2 linked regions of the Homo sapiens genome follow. The protein of the gene in region 1 interacts with the protein of each later gene in a pairwise test. Each region holds a gene or a part of one and is shown on either strand. Other genes may lie near its edges. The genes, in order: MGME1 and DCDC2.

Region 1 (11,244 bases):
ATGAAAGATATAGGAAGGGTGAGGGAAGAAGTCCAACATTTTATCACCCACCAGCTACCAAGTATCTAACAGCACAATGTCCTAGCTCTGCGGTGCTCTTGAAAGAAAAAGTGAAAACCCTGACAAGGGAGCCATCTGGATTTGTATTCCTCACCATTTACCATGACTAGAATGCTTAGGAGTGTGCCCTTCAGAAACTGAGCTTTTCAGGCAGAAAATTAGTTTTCTCTCCAGACCATATAGGAATGCCTAAAAAAGTTATGCCAAAATGTAAAAAGAAGAGTCAAGCCAAGGACCCCCATTTTTAAACTTAAGTGTTGGCTGCCCCTCAAACTGCAACTTACTCCTCCTGGGGTACTATGGTTTGCCTTTAGGCAGCATGTGAAGGTGTGAAGATCTCTTTTAGGAGATCTTGTCAGAGTACCTCAATGGCCAATCAGAAAACAGGTATTAAGGGTGAAGAAGCCACTTTTTGGAAAGTTAGATCATGCAGAGAAACTTAATTTACACTTTAATAGCCGTTTCTCACTATTGGGATCATTAAAAGTTAGACTGTTTCCTTAAATACTATTTAACTTCACTACACACTGTTGTGACCACGGGCTATTTAAGACATTCAGGGTACTAACCTATAGATCTGTTCTCACCTAATTTGCTCGAGCATCAAGACCCTGATAATAAAGACAGAAAAATGCTGAAACAGCAGAATTTTAAACCAAGTTCCCCTCTGCAGCACAAGAAACTCAGGTAAGTTTCCAGTGTCCAAAGCCTACACTCACAAACACAAACACGAAGCCCTCCCTTTGCAACCCTCAAGTACCCAGAACCTGCTGAAGAAAACCATCTTTCACCACCTTTTGTTAAGGTTCCTCAGTATTAGTGGAAAAGCTTTATTCTCACAAAGATATCCAACAATGCTAATTTTTACATGGCATGTTATTTCCTTAGGCAAGATTAATAGAAAACCTGAAAAATTCGCAACAAGCACACAAAGACTAGCTTCTGTAACACAACCTGACCCCACCCATATCACACCATTTTAGAAGGAAGTCCGTTTAAACCAGTGATTCTCAAACAGGCAATTTTGACTTCTTATCACCATGGGAGGGGAGGAGGCCGCGTCCTAGCAGAGGCCAAAAACAGTTGCTTCACATCCTACAACCCAGAGGGCACTCCTCAACAAAAGTGATCAGGCTAAAATGTCAACAGTGCTCCCCAGGTTGAGAAACTGAATTTTAAACTCAACCTCTAGTTTAGATGACCACTAGGTCTCACCGAATGAGGAGTTTACAGCTCAGAAACAAATCTAGAAAACTTAACAGCCTTGGCCAAGCACAATGGCTCATGCCTGTAATCCCGGCATGTTGAACTGGATGGTGAAACCCCATCTCTACCAAAAAATACAAAAATTAGGTGGGCATGCTGGTGTGTGCCTGTAGCCCCAGCTACTCAGGAGGCTGAGGTGGGGGTGATCACCTGAGCTCCCCAGGTCGAGGCTGCAGTGAGTTGTGATCGTGACACTGCACTCCCGCCTGGGTGACAGAGCCAGACCCTGTCTCAAAAAAAAAAAAAAAAAAGCCTCTTGGCCATTTCTACCTATGGCCAAAATAATGTGAACAGATAATGACCTTTTAGAGTATTCACAAATGGGGATCTTAAGACACCGAGTACAAGTTACTGAACTAGAACTAAGGCGTGGGAAGCTTGATACGTCATACTTCCTCAACTTAGAAAATAGTTGCAAGGGTAGCATAAAGCTTCAGTCCACAAAGTTTGTAAGTTTGGACTTGCTATGGTATTGGTCAAAGTTCAGGATTGTTCCTATACTAACCAACTGCACTCCATTCTAGCTAATGGAGAACAAAAATACCCCTAGAGGCAGCTTCCACACCAGTTAAACACGAAACCAGAGCAGCAGTACTTAGTCTACAAACACTCCTGAGTAGGTAAGAGGACAGATATCATTCACCAAAGTCCCTGTAACCAAGCAGTAAGTTAAGGCCAAGTTGTTACTGTCAAGGAAGGAGAACCCCCTAGTTAAAAATAGCACTAGGCTGCGAAGGTCGAGTTCAAATACCAGCCTGGCCAACATGGTGAAACCCGGTCTCCACAAAAATACAAAAATTAGCCGGGCATGGCGGTGAGCGACTGTAATCCCAGCTACTTGAGAGGCTGAGGCAGGAGAATCGCTTGAACCCAGAAAGCGGAAGTTGCAGTGAGCTGAGATCGAGCCATTGCGCTCCAGCCTGGACGACAGAGCGAGACTCCGTCTCAAAAAAAAAAAAAAAATCAAAAACCAGTAAATAGAGGACCAGTTAGGAACCAAATTAACCATGCATCTCTTCCCCTGAACTATTTTCTGAGGAAGAAGGCAAACCCCAACACCCTCGGCTAAAGAATGTAACAAAATGCCAGTGTCTGGCTACCAGACACGACTGACACAGTATTCCCTTTCAGTTTTGCTGAATTGGCCAAAATGAGTATTGGGCTAGAATTCAAAATCCTGAAGAATCAAGTATGTCCCCCTACCTTAGTGAGTCTTAATTAACTCCATCCTTAGGGAGAATTCCAAACCAAAGTAAATTATCAGGAGGGCATTTAAACAATTTAAGTAACACACATTTCAGGTAACACACAAAACATTTCAGTTGACTACCGAAATTGTATTATGGCAAAAAGTTGCCCAAGACTTAGTTTCCCATTATTTCATACTTGCCCCAAACTCCCTTTCAGTTAACCATAACACCATCTAGGCCAGACCACAGCAGGTTATCAGCATCAGCAGAGATCAGAAAACAAAAATAAAGCCACGCGTCAGGGTAATTATTTATTTTTATTGTCTCTTTATTCCTGTAATGTAAAAAGGAAAACAATGTCATGTAACTCTCTTCGCTACAGATACGGACAGTTTCTGTAGCCTCTAAAACAGGCAGGAAATGGCCTTCATAACCATTCTCCAATTTTGCTGGAGGATCAGGGTGGTGGAAGTCATTTTAAAAACCAGCTGCAATATACTGTACTACCAGAGAGTGGGGTGAAGCAATTGAGTCCTTTTACCTAGCTGACTCCGAATCAAGACAGCTAAAAGAATGTACCAGAAAGAAAGAAAAAATAAAATGCTACCAAAATCCCAATCCATTATCTACCCTTTATGGAGAAAAGTACCTTTATAATGTTTTACAAAGAATCGTGGTCTCAAGTTTCCACTTTGTTTTAGTAATAAAGAACTTTCAAAAAAAAAACCACTCTAAACAACACCCTCCTGTATAGAAAGCTCTATTTTAATAATTAATGCAATGATACCCTTGTTGGAACAATCCAGCCGCTTTGAAACTCTGGTATTTACTTACTAGATGAACAAGTTTCTCTATGGAGGTGCCTTTAACTTCTCAAGAAATGTGTAAGTTAAGACGGCTCCAAATTACATTTTAAGAGAGCCTTGTATTTTTAGAGGTTCTTTTTCATCGGTCAGAAAAACTTACGTTGACGATTCTGCAAGAAAGGTTGCTCGCAAACCATGCATCGCAAAGCTACCGAGGCAAATTTAAAGAACCAATGAAAAAGAGTGGAGGCTCGTCTGAATCTTTAATTGGCTATGGGAATTTCAATTTATTGCATAAATAATCTTTTAGACCTCAAGATACACGTGACCTAGGGACAGTTTACATCAATGGGCAAGACTTAAAAATAGACACCAAGTTCAGCAAGTATTTGAGCACCTACTAAAAATTACACAACTCCCACAACAACGCATTTTGCGTTTCTAAAGTTGTAAGCAGCATGTTCGGACGCTTGATGCAATTTCCCAAGTTGTTTGGGCCCCCCCCCCAAAAAAGTCTTCTCAGTAAAAGGTGGGGGGAAGGAGGGTATTTTGGGGGCAACAAACCAAACTGGTCTGTCGCATGTTAAGTCAATTTCACGTTCACCTACTGGTCACCACGAAGCCGAGGAAAGTTTTAAAAAGAACATTCCGGGGTCTCCAGAGATCATCTCTCCAAGTCCGCTCGGCACCGGCGCCTGAGCTGGGGCTAAGGTCCCGCGTCTCTGGTTCTGTCCTAATAGAATCCGGGACATCCACAGGGATTCCCCGGGGCAGCCTTCAGTGAAGACCAGGGAGAGGGGCCGCCCGGGTCTCACGGGTGCTTCCCGCGCTGGGGATGGCGGCGAGCAGCCACGGCCTATGGACGCGCAAGGGAAAGAATGCAGCGACCCCGGAGCTCGCAGGGCCGCCCGCCCAGGAGTCTGAGGCTGGGAGGACCTCACCTTGCTGCGGTCCTCCTCCTGCTGCTGCAGCAACTCGGGAACCGCGGCCATGGCGACGCGGGACTCGAGCAGGGGCCGCCTGGCTGTGCGAGGAAAGAAGAAGCTGGGCCGCCGCCGCCGCCGCCTGGGCGCCTCTCGGGGGCGGCCACGGCCCCGCCTCCGCCGGCCTCCCTGCCCGACGGCGGCAGGAGGCCTCCGGACTCCGCCACCATCCCAGCTGCCCCGGGAGCAGGCGAGCAGGGCGCCACGTGCTCCCCCAGAGCAGCCTCCCAGTCCCCGCTGCCGTCCATCTTGGAGCCGGGCAAAGACGCCACGTGGGGCCTACCCTTGCTCCGCTCCACGAGGAGGCCGCCAACCGCAGGGCCGCGACACGGACGGGAAGCAACGGACACTCTCCCAGCAAGACGCGTCTAGAGAAAGACCGCGTTTCGGTGCGGGGGGAATTTATTACTCAGCCCGAGTCCAAGATGGCAGCGAGCGCTGACGTCACCAGATCTCGTGAGAGCAGAAGGGCGCGATTTGGAGGCTCCCGCGCTTCGGAGACGCCGGCCCTTCCGCTCGGAGAGGTACTCCCTGCCTCTAACTGGTGGCGCGTTGGCGGAGGCCGACGAAAGCCTCGGGTGGGGCGTGAGCGCCGCGGGGCATTCTGGACCTGCTTTGCCTTAGGCTGTGCCTAATTCGAAACCAAAGCGCGGGACGGATGAAAGTACGGGTCGCGAGAGGTTGTTCGCGCCTTGAGAGTTAAGCGAAGTGTGGTGGCTTCCAAGGTACCGACACTTGCCGTAGGCTGGGCTTTTATTTAAGTCGTCTTTTCTCTAATCCAGACTCCTGCCACAGGGGCCACCGCCGTCCTGGCCCCGCCAGGGGTCCGCACCCACGGCGGAGCGGGAGGCGACTTTTTGCGGTCACAGTAATGGGACCTCAGCGCCGCCACCAGCTCTGACCGGCGAGCGACGGGACCCTCCAACCCGATTTCCACGTCTGTGCAACGGGTTCATTCTAGACCCACGGTAGAGGGTGTGAGGACCAAATGAGAAGTATCCACACAGAATACTTAGCAGAGAGCCTGGTGTCTAGGAATTAGTCGTCGTCTGTCACCTAGGACTGTGTGGCCGCCATGGGACGGGCTCCATCTTTGTGTTTTTCCGTGTCTCGCACACGCCTCCCTTCCTGGGCGTCACATTCCTGCAGATTAGAAACTGGGACGTCTTGCCTCAAGCTGTCTACTAATTCGCATTTAGTATGTGTCGGTCCTTCGGGTATTGAGTCTTGATTTATTTATAAATTTTTTTTGGAGGCAGGGTCTCGCTCTGTCGACTTTCTTAAGAAAGGGCTCTGTCCAAACATGTCGAAAAAGTTCACAATTTTGATGTGCAATATCATTCTGATGCAGCTTTCGCTTTGATGGTTGTTTTCTCTCCAATAGGAATACAAACATAAAGGCCTTCGACCGTTGCAAATAGACTAAAGTGAAAACAAATCTGAATGAAGATGAAGTTATTTCAGACCATTTGCAGGCAGCTCAGGAGTTCAAAGTTTTCTGTGGAATCAGCTGCCCTTGTGGCTTTCTCTACTTCCTCTTACTCATGTGGCCGGAAGAAAAAAGTGAACCCATATGAAGAAGTGGACCAAGAAAAATACTCTAATTTAGTTCAGTCTGTCTTGTCATCCAGAGGCGTCGCCCAGACCCCGGGATCGGTGGAGGAAGATGCTTTGCTCTGTGGACCCGTGAGCAAGCATAAGCTGCCAAACCAAGGTGAGGACAGACGAGTGCCACAAAACTGGTTTCCTATCTTCAATCCAGAGAGAAGTGATAAACCAAATGCAAGTGATCCTTCAGTTCCTTTGAAAATCCCCTTGCAAAGGAATGTGATACCAAGTGTGACCCGAGTCCTTCAGCAGACCATGACAAAACAACAGGTTTTCTTGTTGGAGAGGTGGAAACAGCGGATGATTCTGGAACTGGGAGAAGATGGCTTTAAAGAATACACTTCAAGTAATTATCTCAATTCTGATTCTATATGTTTGCTATGTTTTCTATAATAGAGAGCAACGGTGTCAAAAGAATGAGGTTTGGTTTTGTTTTTTTAACTTACTAGCAAGGAACTCCCTTCAGATAGTAATTAACATTAAATAGCACTTTATGTGTATTAACTCACTTGATCCTCATGGTAGTCCTGTGGAGTATAGATACTGTTATCCACATTTTACAGATGAAACTAAAATAGATCAAATATTTGACTAAATAATACATAAAATTCACTTGTTTTATAAGCTACCAACAATATTAGAATTGCTTGTTTTCCTTGATTATTGAAAAAAGTCACCTGGTAACAGAATTCTAGTTGTTTGCTAGATAATTCTGTTTAGAATCCAGTAAATACCCACTGTCCTACTTATTAGCGTAAACTGACTCGTAAATTTAAAGACCTTGAAGCAGACCAGAACACATGACCTATATTTAGACCTTGGTAAACATAATCAGAGGTTCTTCATAAGGATCTGAGGATAAATACACTTTAACCTTCAACTTCTAATTTACTAACTTGGACAAGTGAGGAGAATAGCTTCCTTAAATTTAATATTCCATTCAAAAACAAAGACCATTGGCACTGGTGAATTAGCTAGTCCCATAAATTATATAGGGGTCTTTTGTTAAAGGAAAGTTTCACATCAATCATTCCTTTACCCAAGCTTCCCAAAGTGCAGTACATGTACTCTTAGTAGTACACAAACTCTTTCATTTTTGTTTTAAGAATAGTGTACTGACCCTTGCCATAGCCTGGGCTTCTATTTAAGTCGTCTTTTCCCTAATCCAGACTCCTAAAACTATGCGTGTAACACATTAAACATGTCACATGTTCTAAAGAAAAATACTAAGTATATATAGGTGGTATTGGATATGTACCAAATGGTCAAGGCCTTTGCTCCTTATAATATTCCTCAGCTGTGTGGGGCAAGGATTATATATGCAAGAGCTAACTGCCTTCCTAAGATAGTTAATTAGTAGCAACCACCAAACTATTGTCTGCTTTCCAAGCAAGCAACATAAAAATCTTCTAATGGCATCTTACAGTTTTGTATTTGTACCACTAAAATTTAGAATTGATAGTTTTCTCATGAGAAGTTATTTTCCTTAAACCAGGAATGTACAGCTGAAATTACTAATAAGAAATGTATTATTAAAAGGCAGAAACCTGCTGGAACACATGGGACCCCAGGGCCTGTAGCTCTTGGCACAAAGTAAGGAAGTGCACCAGAGAGGAATTTCTGTTTGGAATGTGAATGAGCCCCAATAGCCCAGGCAGAGAGAAGACTGGTTGTTTTTTTTTTCATAGAGTCAGCTTTGTTGATCTAGATTAGCACTCAGCTGTGTTTCTCAGTTAACTCAGTAGCAACCTTAAGAAATGAGCAGAATCGCTTACCCCAGCACCCCGCCCAGACTTGACCGCCGGGACCCAAGTGATTCTCCCATCTCAGCCTGCTGAGTAGCTGGGACCACAGGCGTGCACCACCATGCCTGGCTAATTTTTTTATTTTTTGTAGCGACAAGGGTCTCCCTATGTTGCCCAGGCTAGTCTCCAACTCCTGTCTTCAAGTGGTGCTCCCACCTCGGCCTCCCAGAATACTGAGACTACAGGTGTGACCCACTGTGCCCAGGCAGAATCACTCTTTTTAGAAAATAAGTATTAGTAAGCAGTGGGTTCTGAAATAAATAAAGGGACAATTAGTGTCATGGTGAATAAAAGAAAAAGGGCTCACTAAATTGATTAACGGGTCTGGAGGATACTGGATCCCAAACCCAAGAAGGTGGCACCCAAGAAGAATTACATTTTAAAAATTAAGAAGATTTTTTTAATGAAAAATATTGGATCAGTAATTTCTACCCAGTCTTCTCAAAGGTGAGAGCATAGAAATGTGTCTGGCATTCTTCCAAATACTTGAGCAGTTTCCCAAGCATCAGTTCATCTTTTGAAGACTGGTGGGAATGAGAAAGTCTGACTTATTCTGATTTATATTTTGTGTATAAATACACACAAAGGGATGGGGTTTAGGTTTTAATTTTTTTTTTTTTTTTTTTGCTACGCTGATTTAATCCTGAAGTATTAGCCATCCTGCCAGTTCCATCATGAGAATACTGGAGATGCATGAAGGTTTTTTTTAGTGCACTTCATATACGAGGACTTGAAAACATTTCACTTTCATTACTTTGAGTGAATAAGCAGACTTGATGCTACATGCAGTGAATATTCTTGGATCATTTTTTATTTTTATAAATTGAATCATGTTGAATGTTCTGAGCCTTAGTGTCTAAAGGATCCTGTAATCTAGGTTTTCATGTTTGTGATCATGTGTATATGAAGAACCTAGCCAGGGGTAAGTTTGCAGCGAGAAATGTATGGTCTATTGGCATGGCATTTGCTAAGTTTTTTTCTTCCTGTTTTTAACATGTTTGTCTTCTGCTTCATTAACCTAGTGTGTAGATGAATGCTATACACTTCTTTTTCCTAGGCTTTAATTCCATCAGTCATAAATTTCTTGTAGGTCTTTCACGTGTTAATAATTCCAATTGAGTCAAGTAAATTTGGAGTAGAATAACTTAGTTCCTAAGTTGAATTTCATTTAACTCTCCAAATAATTTTTCAGAAGGGATTCCATTTTTTGCTAATGATAGAATTGACATTTCCAGCTGGGCATAGTGGCTCATGCCTGTAATCCTAGCACTTTGGGAGGCCGAAGCAGGCGGATCACTTGAGGTCAGGAGTTCAAAACCAGCCTGGCCAAAATGGCGAAACCCCATCTCTACTAAAAATACAAAAAAATTAGCCGGGCGCAGCGATCACTTGTAATCCCAGCTACTACGGAGGCTGAGGCAGGAGAATCGCTTGAACCTGGGAGGTGGAGATTGCAGTGAGCCGAGATCATACCACTGCACTCCAGCCTGGAAAAAAAAAGAATTGACATTTCCATCTTTGTAAAAAATAGTTGAAGGCCGAGTGCAGTGGCTCATGCCTGTAATCCCAGCACTCTGGGAGACCAAGGTGGGACGATTGCTTGAGGCCAGGTGTTTAAGACCAGCCTAGGCAACGTAGAGAGATTGCATCTCTACAAAAAAAAAATTTTTTTGAATTAGCCAGGCGTGGTGGCACATGCCTGTAGAGGAAGCTGAGACAGGAGGATTGCTTAAGGCCAGGTGTTCAAGGTTACAGTGAGCAATGATCGAGCCAGTACACTCCATCCTGGGTGACAAGTAAGACCCTGTCTCAAAAAAAAAAAAACTTGACAAATGTAAAGTTGTTTTCCGCCTTTTCTGTGGGTCTCTCTGCAAGCATGTTCCAAGCACGTGTATTTCCTGCTCTGTTTCTCTGAGTATCTAATTGGTGATTTCCAAGATTGCTTCCTTTGCTCTACTGTGTGGTAGATTGGAAACAGATTCTGGTGCCAGGCTGCCTGTCCAGCTTTTTGCTTTGGGGCAAATTAACAGCACTGCCTGGTGGGATAGGGCCTCATTCATTAAAATGGGGGTAACTTACAATCCCTATTTTGCTGGGTTGTTGGGTTTGAAAATTAAATAATGTTTTGAAAGCTCCAAGGCCATTGCTTAGCATAACAGTCCCCCCTCTTTCTCTCCTCTTACTAAGAAACAAGTGAATATATTTCTTGTGTTTGTTGAGTCTCTTTGTGTGTTTTTTTTTTTTTTTTTTTTTTTGAGATTGTCTTGCTCTGTCACCCAGGCTGGAGTGCAGTGGCATGATCTTGGCTCACTGCAACCTCTGCCTCCTGGGTTCAAGCAATTCTCCTGCCTCAGCCTCCAGAGTAGCTGGAATTACAGGCATGCGCCACCACACCTGGCTAATTTTTGTATTTTGAGTAGAGACTGGGTTTTACCATGTTGGCCAGGCTGGTCTTGAACTCCTGACCTCAGGTAATCCGCCTGCCTTGGCTGCCCAAAGTGCTGGGATTATAGGCATAAGCCACCATGCCCGGCCATGTTCCCTTTTTTAAAATGTGTATGAGGAGGGGGCTTACTATGCAAGCGCTTGGAGGCCAACGAGCACTGAAAATGAGGAGAGAGTTCAAAAATCAAGTTAGATCCTGGGATACGCCAACAAATCCAGACACTACAGTTCTTTCGGAGAAACCTGGGGACGAAAAGTAAGGCTTTGACCTCAGAAAATGAACATACAGGAAAAATAATGTGTCCTAATGTGTCCTAATGAAATTTCTCTAGTATTCACATGTTATAAAATGTTAGGAAGAAAGAAGATGTGTCCTCCTACAAGCCATAAATCAGAATTCTAATAATCTAAAGCTAATTAGAAAAATATTACATGTTAAATATTAAATATTAGAATAGAAAAATGTATGAGGGAAAAAAATTGAGACACAGCTGAATTTTTCAGGCTGTTCCAGCACTAAAAAAAAAATACAGGAGAAGAATGTCACATATTTTCCTCTTCCTCCCCCTCCAGATTCCATAATATCAAATTCATAACTTTTCATTTGCGCATGCCTTATTTTCCATTCCTTGTTTGTCACTAATCCTGTTAGTAAAAGGATTCCCCCACCTATGTTCATAATTAAGTTTTGGTCTAAAAAGAACTACAAACAGAAGCACAGTTCCCTAGATTTCTAATTTTTTTTTATTTTATCACAGCCAGTTAACTTATTACATTGGATACTTAAACACATAGTACCATAAACTGGATGTGGTCTTGTAGCCGCCAGATCTTCAGTTTTGACTTTGGCCCAATTCTCCTAGAAGTACTTAATTTTAATTCATTTTATTACCTAACGTCCTATTAATAATCCCGTTGGTTTCAAAGTATATTCTTAGGTTTCACAAGAGGCTGAAATTTGGTCTTAGGGGTTGTCACTTAAAAATAACTAATGTAATTTTTGGCCGGGCACGGTGGCTCATGCCTGTAGTCTCAGCACTTTGGGAGGCCAAGGCTGGCAGATCACGAGGTCAGGAGTTCG
Region 2 (10,338 bases), on another chromosome or scaffold:
TCCTCCCACCTCAGCCAAGCAGCTGGAACTACAGGAGTGTGCCACCATACCCAGCTAATTTTTTTGTATTTTTTGTAGAGACGGGGTTTCACTATGTTGCCCAGGCTGGCCTCAAACTCCTGAGCTCAGACAATCTGCCCGGCTCAGCCTCCCAAGTGCTGGGATTATAGGCATAAGACACCATGCCCAGGCAACTTTTTGATGTGGGCATTTAGTGCTATAAATTTTCCTCTTAACACAGCCTTAGCTATGTCTCAGAGATTCTGGTATGTTGTATTTTTGTTCTCAGTTTCAAAGAACTTCTTGATTTCTGCCTTAATTTTATTATTTACCCCAAAGTCACTCAGGAGCAAGTTTTTTAATTTCCATGTAATTGCATGGTTTTGAGCAATTTTTAAAGTCTTGGTTTCTATTTTTATTGTGCTGCGATCTGAGGGTGTGTTTGGTATGATTTTGATTCTTTTACATTTTCTGAGGATTGTTTTATGTTTGGTTTTGTGGTTAATTTTAGGGTATGTGCCATGTGGCAATAAGAAAAATGTATATTCTGTTTTGGGATAGAGAGTTCCATAGAGGTTTATCACATCCATTTTGTCCAAGGTTGAGTTCAGGTCCTGAATATCTTTGCTAATTTTCTGCTTTTATGATCTATCTAATACTGTCAGTGGAGTGTTGAAGTTTCCCACTATTATGTGGGAGTCTAAGTCTCTTTGTGGATTTCTAAGAACTTGCTTTATGAATCTGGGTGCTCCTGTGTTGGGTGCGTATATATTTAGGATAGGTGAAATTCTTAATGTAATGGCAGATATGAGAGATTTGGTTGCTGCTCTCTTGGGATATGACCGTTTTCCTTTAACGTTAATAAATCTTATGGTTGGCCCCTCCCTATGCATCAGTATATTCATATATAAAAAGCATCCCATAAAAATTTACTGAACTTGCTTTTTATGTTTCTTGTGTTTGTAGCAAAAGAAGAAAGTAGAGCAACAACAGTTATATAAAAGAAGGCTAAAATCATGAATTAGAATTTATTCAGTGCTGGGCCAGGTGTGGTGGCTCACGTCTGTAATCCCAGCACCTTGGGAGGATCACTTGAGCCCAGGAGTTCGAGACCAACCTGGGCAACATAGCAAAACCTTGTCTCTATTAACAAAAAGAATTTATTCACTGCGTTTTACTTACCTGCAGAGGAAACAAGTCAAATCTTGGCTGTTTCCAGAGTCCACAGCTATGCTGGTTTTTAATTTCTAGCTATGAAATTACTACTGATTGAGATATAACTATTTTGAAGAAAAGTAGAAAAATAGTGCTTGGATATAGGCCATTGGCTCTCAAGCAGGTATGATTTTGCCCCTTGGGGACATTTGGCAGTGCCTGAAACCATTTTTGGTAGTCCCAACTGGGGATGGGGTGGCTACTGCTACTGTTTAGTGGGTGGAGGCCAAAGGTGCTGCTAATAAACATCTTACAATGTACAGGGCAGCCTACTCACCTTTCCAGCAAAGAATTATCTGGTCCAAAATGTCAATAATGCCAGTATTCAGAAACCCTGGTCAAGTGTTTTTTGAGATAGCGTCTTACTATGTTGCCCAGGCTGGTCTTGAACTCCTGGGCTCAAGCGATCCTCTTGCCTTAGCCTTCCAAGTAGCTGGAACTATAGGCATAGGCCACCATGTCCAGCTTAAGTTAAGGCAAAAAACATAGAATTCTGGGTTAAGTGTTGATATTTAGACTTGTTAGGAGTAGAGGTACAATGTTATAAAGAAAGAGACTTTACCATCTGTATACTAACTAAAAACACAAATACATTTCAGGAATGTTGGTGGCTATTGGTGGCTATTTTCATTGTATTTCATGGTTCTGTATGATATGGCCATTTATGTCATCAGGAAACAAGCTGACAGGTCAATGGGTTTTTTTTTTTGCGTCTGTAAATGACATTTAATCTTATTATGTAATATAGGAAGACAGAAAGCTTTTTGATGATACTGAAATCCTTCCATTTATTAATAGCTCTTGCTTATAACCTTAAAAAATATGCACTGTCTTTCTGGTTTAGTTTTCTAATACTTATTTTCCTGTTCTTTAAAAAAATTTTTGTGGACATTTAAAATCATCTGGTAAAATTATGACTGTTCTTTTAATAAGTAACATATTAATTGTAGCTCGTAGCAGCAGTTTTACAGTAAAGGAAGGTTACTGTGAAACTGCTCGATTCTGGGAAGATATAATGTTCACTCTTGTTTTGCTTAGTAGGGACGGCAAAAAAAAAGAAAGAAGCACAAATGCTATGCAGTTCTGCATCATTAACACTGGCAATGGGTTCTTTTACCTCCTGCCCTCTCACCCCATTGTTCCTGACCCGGTTCTCTGTGTGTTTGTATGTAATATTTTGGTTGAGGGCTGTTCTTACACAGAATGTGGTCAGAAGCTTGCCAGCCTGATGAATATGCTAAGAAAATAAAATTTAAAAGTATTAACAAGGCCGGGCGCGGTGGCTCATGCCTGTAATCCCAGCACTTTGGGAGGCCGAGGCGGGCGGATCACGAGGTCAGGAGATCGAGACCATCCCGGCTAAAACGGTGAAACCCGGTCTCTACTAAAAATACAAAAAATTAGCCGGGCGTAGTGGCGGGCGCCTGTAGTCCCAGCTACTTGGGAGGCTGAGGCAGGAGAATGGCATGAACCCGGGAGGCGGAGCTTGCAGTGAGCCGAGATCCTGCCACTGCACTCCAGCCTGGGCGACAGAGCGAGACTCCGTCTCAAAAAAAAAAAAAAAAAAAAAAAAAAGTATTAACAAAATATAAATAGAAGAATCAATGTTCAATGGAAACAGAGCTTTATTTAAAGCACTGTGATCTGTACAAGTTAATTTTTCTCCTCTAAAATTTTAATATGGCAGCAATAGGGATCCTTATGCCAGATCATCAGACTCACTGGGGTGAAACCCTGTACAGCAAGATAGTCATTGTATCTGCATTATAACATTAGTATTTAGTGGAATCTGATAACTTTGAGGCATCTATAATGCAATAATGAGGATAGTAACAAATGAGCTAAATTAAGTACAGAATGTTTTTATTTACTATGTAATTTTAATTTTTTTGACATCCAGAATACTTTGTAATCTTAAGCAATTCTTTAAATGTTGGTTAAAATTCTAATTGTTGGTGTTCATATTTTCGACAGGCTTTATACTTTAGAAGGAAAACTTGTTGAGAGTGGAGCAGAGTTGGAGAATGGGCAGTTTTATGTGGCTGTTGGCAGAGATAAGTTTAAGAAACTGCCTTACAGTGAGTTACTTTTTGACAAGTCAACGATGAGAAGGCCTTTTGGGTAAGTCTTACTCCTTACCACTCCTCATGCTTTAGTTACCACTTGAAATAGCATTGGGTCTTTTGCTGACCACCATTATATTTTATGTAATTGATAATCTTATTTATTACTTAGAATGGAAAGCATATATGGTATACATTGATCTTTGTTTTTATTGCCATGATGGGAGACTGAAAGCTATTGAACAAAAATATAATTTCTGGGAAGTTATGAAAGACTACATGGTTTTTTTTTAGCATGCATGAAATTTATAAGTAAATGCAAAAATTTATTATTGTGAAGAAGATACAGGGCAATGAGCTTCTCTACAGCAAACATTATTAGAAGTTTTTGTGTCTTAATAGTTGCTAGACCAAATAACTTTTCAGTTGGTTTGGATAGAAACATCCAAGAGTGTTAAAAAACTCATAATATTTTATACTTGTTTTAATAATAACTGTAAAATATAAAAACAACATAATCCCACTTATGCAAATAGAGAGGATGGGTGTACAGTTAATTCATGTAAAATTTTAAGGATTATATTTTTAATTACAATATACCGTAAACAGTTTTTCTCCATGAAATGTCATATATTTGTGAAAGATGCTTTATTTCAGCCTAGGAGATACACTGCGGAGTCACTCAAGAAGAGCTCTGGGCCGGGCGCGGTGGCTCACGCCTGTAATCCCAGCACTCTGGGAGGCCGAGGCGGGCGGATCACGAGGTCAGGAGATCGAGACCATCCCGGCTAAAACGGTGAAACCCCGTCTCTACTAAAAATACAAAAAATTAGCCGGGCGTAGTGGCGGGCGCCTGTAGTCCCAGCTACTTGGGAGGCTGAGGCAGGAGAATGGCGTGAACCCGGGAGGCGGAGCTTGCAGTGAGCTGAGATCCCGCCACTGCACTCCAGCCTGGGCGACAGAGCGAGACTCCGTCTCAAAAAAAAAAAAAAAAAAAAAAAAAAAAAAAAAAAAAAAAGAAGAGCTCTGGCCCATGCTGCAGGATCTCTCGGCTTGCTCATGGTGCCCAGGGATCCATCTCTGTTGCTTTTCCCAGAGATTCTGTGGCCACCTTGCCATTGCAAAAAAAAATTTTTTTTGGTTGTCGTCCGCAGAAGTAGAGCAGAATATCACCAGTGTGTTTGCAATTAATTCACAATTTGTGTAACTTGATGGAGAGGCTGGCCAAGAGCTTCTAAATAAGTAATAGATGAAGTGGAATTTCAGGGGTGGTGTTTGAACTATGCAAGAGCACATGGTTTTCTAGCACCTTTGAATTATTTACCAGCTGACTTATCGCTAACCAACCTTACCCATCCATGAAATCAAATCTTTAGCCATCTTTGCTAAGCAGCCCTAGGTTAACCTGCTGTGATCAACAGTGTGTACCTGATGGTAATAAGAAAACTGTAACTCACGTTGGCCTTTCTCATACAATTAATAAGAATTTTTTTTATATATGTGTCCTTCTATTTTTGGAGAGATTCAGTTGGGTTTCAAGATGGGTCTTTTCCTAATAATACAGATATCAACAAAACAACTTATTCTTACAGCCTAAAATAATTTTTAACTTTTTGGTGAGGACGACTTGTTTAAAAACTACCTGAATGCAAATGCCAGTGTTTTACCTCTGCTCTCCTATCAGAGGTAGACATAGAAGACATCATAGAAACGAAGGAAATTTGTTTTTAACTCAGTCTGGAAAAATCATTATTCACATTTGGAAATGATTTTTTGAAATGCAAATAGGACACTTTGGGATCTGGATAAAAATGCTATACAAATTTCAGGTGATACTAAAAGTTTACTTGTAAGCATTGATTAAAATATTATACAGGAAAACATTACAAATCTTTTGGGATGGAATTTGGAAATGTTATGATCTTTGTGAAATTGGGAAAGTATGTGTTAAAGTGTATGTTATCTACCTTTTGTGAAACACAGCAGTAAACAGTTGACTTCCAGGTGGGGATGATAATTATCTTGCATTGTACATTATTTGTAAACAACATTCAGATTTCTAAATTGCAATTTGTTTCCACAGTCAGAAAGCTTCTTCACTACCTCCTATTGTAGGATCCAGAAAGTCTAAAGGGAGTGTAAGTATCAGATGCTTTCCTCGTTGATGTTCTATATTTTTATATGATACAAAGAGACTGTCCTTTGGGCTTCAATTAAGTTCCAAGAGATAAAACTTAGCCGCTTCGTGGTGTATAACCAATTATGTGAAACAGCACTAGAACTTTAATGTTACACTTATGGTCCTAAACAGAGCTAACATTTTTTAGAATATGTATTTTAAAATTTTTTCCTTGTATATACACCTGACATAATTTATATTGCACTTAAAATCTTGGCAATAATACTTTAAACTGTAAGAACCATTGTAGTAGGTCACATCAATGATCATCCAGTCTTGGTTTCTATCTTTAACGAAGACTAAAAGGGAAGTTTCGCTGAGAAAAGGGGTATAATCCTCATTAATATTCCTTGAAAAGATTGAGAATTGTTCTAGGTATTTAGTTTGCCATCTGAATCTTTTCCATTTATCATTTATTCATGGTTTGTTAATTCAGCAAACATTTATTAAATACCTACTCTGTGGGAGTAACGACAGCATTTAGTAGGTAATTTCCTAACCTTCTTGTGTTTTCAGTCTGCGCTCCCTGATGGGGTGAGCTCCATGTCATGCCAGAGCGTTGCCTTGGCAGTTCTTCCTGGCTGAGGCTTCTCTTTCTTCCCTTTTGGTTGAATTGCCCGACAAGTTGTGATCAGAACTGATTTGACATCTTCCACCCACACCCTGAATTAATTAAGCAACATTCTTATTTTGGTATTTTGTAAAGTAAATGATTTCTAGGCAATGATATTGTCTCCTAATGATTTAGATCCCTCCTTTTTTTTGGTTATATCATGTGAAATTCTTGAAAGAAAGACAAATAATTTTGTGTACATAAGTAGTGCCGAACTCAGCATAACAGATATTAAGAACTCATTAGCTGAGACTCTTATACTATTATGACAAAAATAAAATAAAAATCAATAGAGCTCTTGCCCTCAAGCAACTTACAATCTACTTGAAATAAAGAAGATAGCTTAAAAAGGCAACAAACAAGCTAATGCTAAACATCAAATATCTAGAGATTGGTGACCATGAGAGGGAGGGAAGGACTGAATGTACAATGGCAGCAGTCCACAGAGGAAGTTGAATTTGAGCTCTGCCTTTGAAACTGTTTAAAATTCAGAAAAAGGTAGATGAGGGGAGAGGACCTTCAGATCCAAGGGAGGGTGAGATGGTTGGGGCAGACGTGGGCATGCGAAGAAGCAGTCACGCTGGCTGACATTTACCGGGCCCTTGTGGGCTCAACACTATGCCAAGCTCTTTACAGTAGTGATTTATTTAACCTCACCCCACAAGGCAGGCATCTTTGTCATCTACATTTAAAAAGGAATGAAAAAAGGAAGTACACAGAGTAGAAGTGACAGGTTCAAAGGCTCCCATTGAAGGCAGAGGTTGCAGTGAGCAGAGATTGCCCCACTGCACTTCAGCCTGGGCAACAGAGTGAGACCCTGTCTCAAAAAAATGAAACAAAATAACATAAAATACAATACAATACAAACAAAGGCTCCTACTGAGCAAATGGCAGGGGAGGAGGGGAGGAATTGCATCCACACAGCCAGCTCAGAGCTCCTGCTCCCGAGCCCCGGGACAATGAGTCCCTTAGGCTGACTGGAACAGATGGTCCTTTTTGGTGTGGGGGCTGATGTGCCTGACATGGTAGGTGGTGACAGTTATTACATGACCTTGAATAGCAGAATGAAGAGTCTAGTGTTTGTCCTTGAATAGAGGGCAGCCCACAAGGGCTTCTGAGAGGTGAGAATATTAATCTGAGTCCATTTTGGGAGCATCAGATCTTTTACATGGAGGAAGACTTCACGTGGTGAGAAGCCATAGATAAGTCGATGGTTGTAAGGCAGTTGCAACTATCTTGGTATGAGGGGAAAGGAGCCTAGACTGGGGAGGTGGTAGAGGCAGCAGGAAGTGATGATTATTCTGGAAGAAACCAAGGAACAAAGGATTTGTGTGATGATTGGATACAAGGGGTTAATGGAGAAATTGGGGCCAAAGATAACTGAGGTTTTTAAGCTTGGAATTTGAGAAAATGGTAGTTCTATGGCCAAGAAGAAGGCAGCCAGGGCAAAGAATGACCTACGTAATTTCAAACATGTTGAGTTGGAAGTATCATCAGGAAACTTAGTTGAAAGTGTGCTGCAAGCAGTTGTAAATGGCAGAGCTGAGGCCTGCCAAGGACATCAGGACTGAAGCTGCAGTTGCAGGTGGTTTTTTTTTTTTTTTTGAGACAGGGTCTCACTCTGTCACCCAGGGTGGTGTACAGTGGCATGATCATGGTTTACTGTAGCCTTGACCTCCCAGGCTCAAGCGATCCTCTCACCTCAGTCTCCTGAGTAGCTGGGACTCCAGGCATGTGCCACCATGCCTGGCTAATTTTTGTGTTTTTTGTGGAGACAGAGTTTCACCTTGTTGCCCAGGCTGTTCTCAAAGTCCTGGGCTCCAGCGATCGGCCTGCCTTGGCCTCGCAAAGTGTTAGGATTACATGTGTGAGCCACCGCACCTGGCCTGAGTTGTAGATTTGAACAACCATGTAATGGTCCTAGTTGAACAGCAGACGTAGCATCACTGTGGTACTTCATCACCCAGCACAGCTTGAACAGAGCAGGTCTCACTGGTGCTGCCAAGTGAGAGAATGGATGAGGGGCTCCTAGAGGAAGATGGTGCGGTGAGAATTACAGAGGGCCCAGGCTTGAGGCAACCTAACTTCACAGGTGCGGGGTCAAAGAGGAGTGAGAAGAATATTTCAGGAGGTGAAAACAATATCAGAGCAACTATAAAGCTAAATAAAACTCATGAATTTAGGGATTGGAAATTGTATTTTGCTTTTTTTGTTTTTCTTTAGGACTTTGTAGCAGAATCCCTTCTGTGTACTGTATAGATATTAGCTTATTAATTCTCACAGTGCAGCTAGAGGAATGATTACAGAGACCGATTGTAATTGAATAAATTGATCAATAAATTGATCCCAAGTCACAGGGAAAGTCGATGTCAGGACCAAAGTCATGACCCAACTCTTTGTATTCACAGTGACTGAACTTTGGAATGATATGTTTAGTATTCTGAAATTTGAAAAACTAAAATTTTAATTAAAAATGTGTAGAGCATTTCCTGCTTTAAAATGCATGTGTAGGTACACACATGCAATTTTTATTTCTTGCTCATTTGTAAGTTTTTTAGACTGTGCTGTGAATACTGTGATACATCAATGTCATCACATCAATTCATCTGATGATTGAATTTTCCAGGTGTATGGCACAGTAGTAAGCCCCAGGGATACAGCAATGAGCGCAAAGATCTGATGCTCTCTCTGATACTCGTGGTCTACTTGAGTAGACAAAAGTGAAACAAGCGATTCCATTAATCAATGGATACTTATGAAGTATAAAAATGAAAGAAAAGTGCACAGTAATATGAAAGACAATAAAAGAAAAACACATTTAGATAGGTGTGTCAGGGGAGGCCTCATGGAGGAAGTGACGTTAAGCAAAGACTCAGTTATAAGGTATATTTGCATCCCATAGAAAGCAAAGTTGTCAAACGTAGTTCCATGCTATGACTTAGAAAAATAAAATGATAGCAGAGTTTGTCCCTCTTTCCACAGTGTTCCCGTAGCACCCTGTATTCATCCACTCCATCCGTCATCCATTCCAAACATACTCACTGAGCTCCTACTAAGTGCCAGGAACTGTAGGCACTGAGCGTATAGTGGTAGATAGATGAGGACTTAGATTTATGGTGCTTTCATTCTAGTGTGTGTGTGTGCATGTATGTGTGTGTGGGGGGGAGGGTATGGATGGGATGAATGGGAGTAGACAGACGATCAACTAGTAAACAAATGTACAAATAGTTTCAAATGGTGATAAATGCTATGGGGAAAATAAAATGTAGCAGGGCATTGATTTATATAAAATTGTCTGAAACTGAGACCTTAATGATATCTAACACAGCCAATTGTGCCAGGGATGAGGCCGGGGAAGAAGAGCATCCAAGGCAGAGGAAACAAAGTCACACAGGCCCTTGCTAAAGAGCCTGGCATGTGAGGAGGGCAGAAAGAAGGCCGTGAATGAAATCGGAGAGGCAGGCAGGGCTCAATCATATAGGCATGCAAAGAGTTTGGATTTTATTTCTTGATGGGGTGCCATTTGAGGGTTATAGGGAGGGAGTGATATAATTTGCTTCAAAAAAAATTTTTTTTTTTTTTTTTTTGAGACAGAGTCTCACTCTGTTGCCCAGGCTGGAGTGCAGTGGCATGATCTCGGCTCACTGCAACCTCTGCCCCACGGGTTCAAGCAATTCCCTGCCTCAGCCTCCCGAGTAGCTGGGATTACAGGCGCCCGCCACCATGCCTGGCTAATTTTTGTATTTTTTTTTTTAGTAGAGACGGGGTTTCACCATCTTGGCAAGGCTGGTCTTGAACTCCTGACCTCATGATCCACCTGCCTCGGCCTCTCAAAGTGTTGGGATGAGAGGCGTGAGCCACCACGCCTGGCCTGCTTTACATTTTTAAGTGCTCATTCTGGCTGTGGTATCTCTAGAGAAATGGTTTGGGGCAAGAATAGAAGCAGGAGGCAGTGGGACACGTACAGGTATGTGATATAGGTGAGTCCGCTAGGTGGCCGCAGTGGGGGCGGACATCTATTATAACTCTTCTTTGAGTATATTGTCATTGACTGATTCGCTGATCCAACAACTATTTATTGAGTTCATATGATGTCCTGGGACTGTTCTGGTGCTTCAGGGCCCAGAGATTCTGAAGTACTAAATGCACGGAGGTTACATTCCAGAAACAAATGCACAATACGTGTGATATACACCAGGGATAAACATGAATAAAAATACATGAAGACATGGGAAGAGGAAGTGAGAGAGGGTGCTATTTCAGCTGGG

What was found.
Region 2: the proteins of MGME1 (region 1) and DCDC2 interact in binary tests that used the Homo sapiens proteins (3 or more experiments, as listed by UniProt).

Annotation. Positions count from the first base shown.
Region 1 is NC_000020.11:17,964,112-17,975,355, forward strand, and holds the start of MGME1 (mitochondrial genome maintenance exonuclease 1 isoform 2 precursor), read left to right. Parts: upstream 1-4,906; 5' UTR 4,907-5,030; exon of another isoform or gene 5,031-5,503; intron 5,504-5,689; 5' UTR 5,690-5,748; coding exon 5,749-6,259; intron 6,260-8,595; coding exon of another isoform or gene 8,596-8,640; intron 8,641-11,244. Other genes in the region: SNX5 (sorting nexin-5), read right to left, coding at 4,264-4,314. UniProt on the Homo sapiens protein: Metal-dependent single-stranded DNA (ssDNA) exonuclease involved in mitochondrial genome maintenance. Has preference for 5'-3' exonuclease activity but is also capable of endonuclease activity on linear substrates.
Region 2 is NC_000006.12:24,283,930-24,294,267, reverse strand, and holds part of DCDC2 (doublecortin domain-containing protein 2), read left to right. Parts: intron 1-3,189; coding exon 3,190-3,336; intron 3,337-5,361; coding exon 5,362-5,416; intron 5,417-10,338. UniProt on the Homo sapiens protein: Protein that plays a role in the inhibition of canonical Wnt signaling pathway. May be involved in neuronal migration during development of the cerebral neocortex. Involved in the control of ciliogenesis and ciliary length.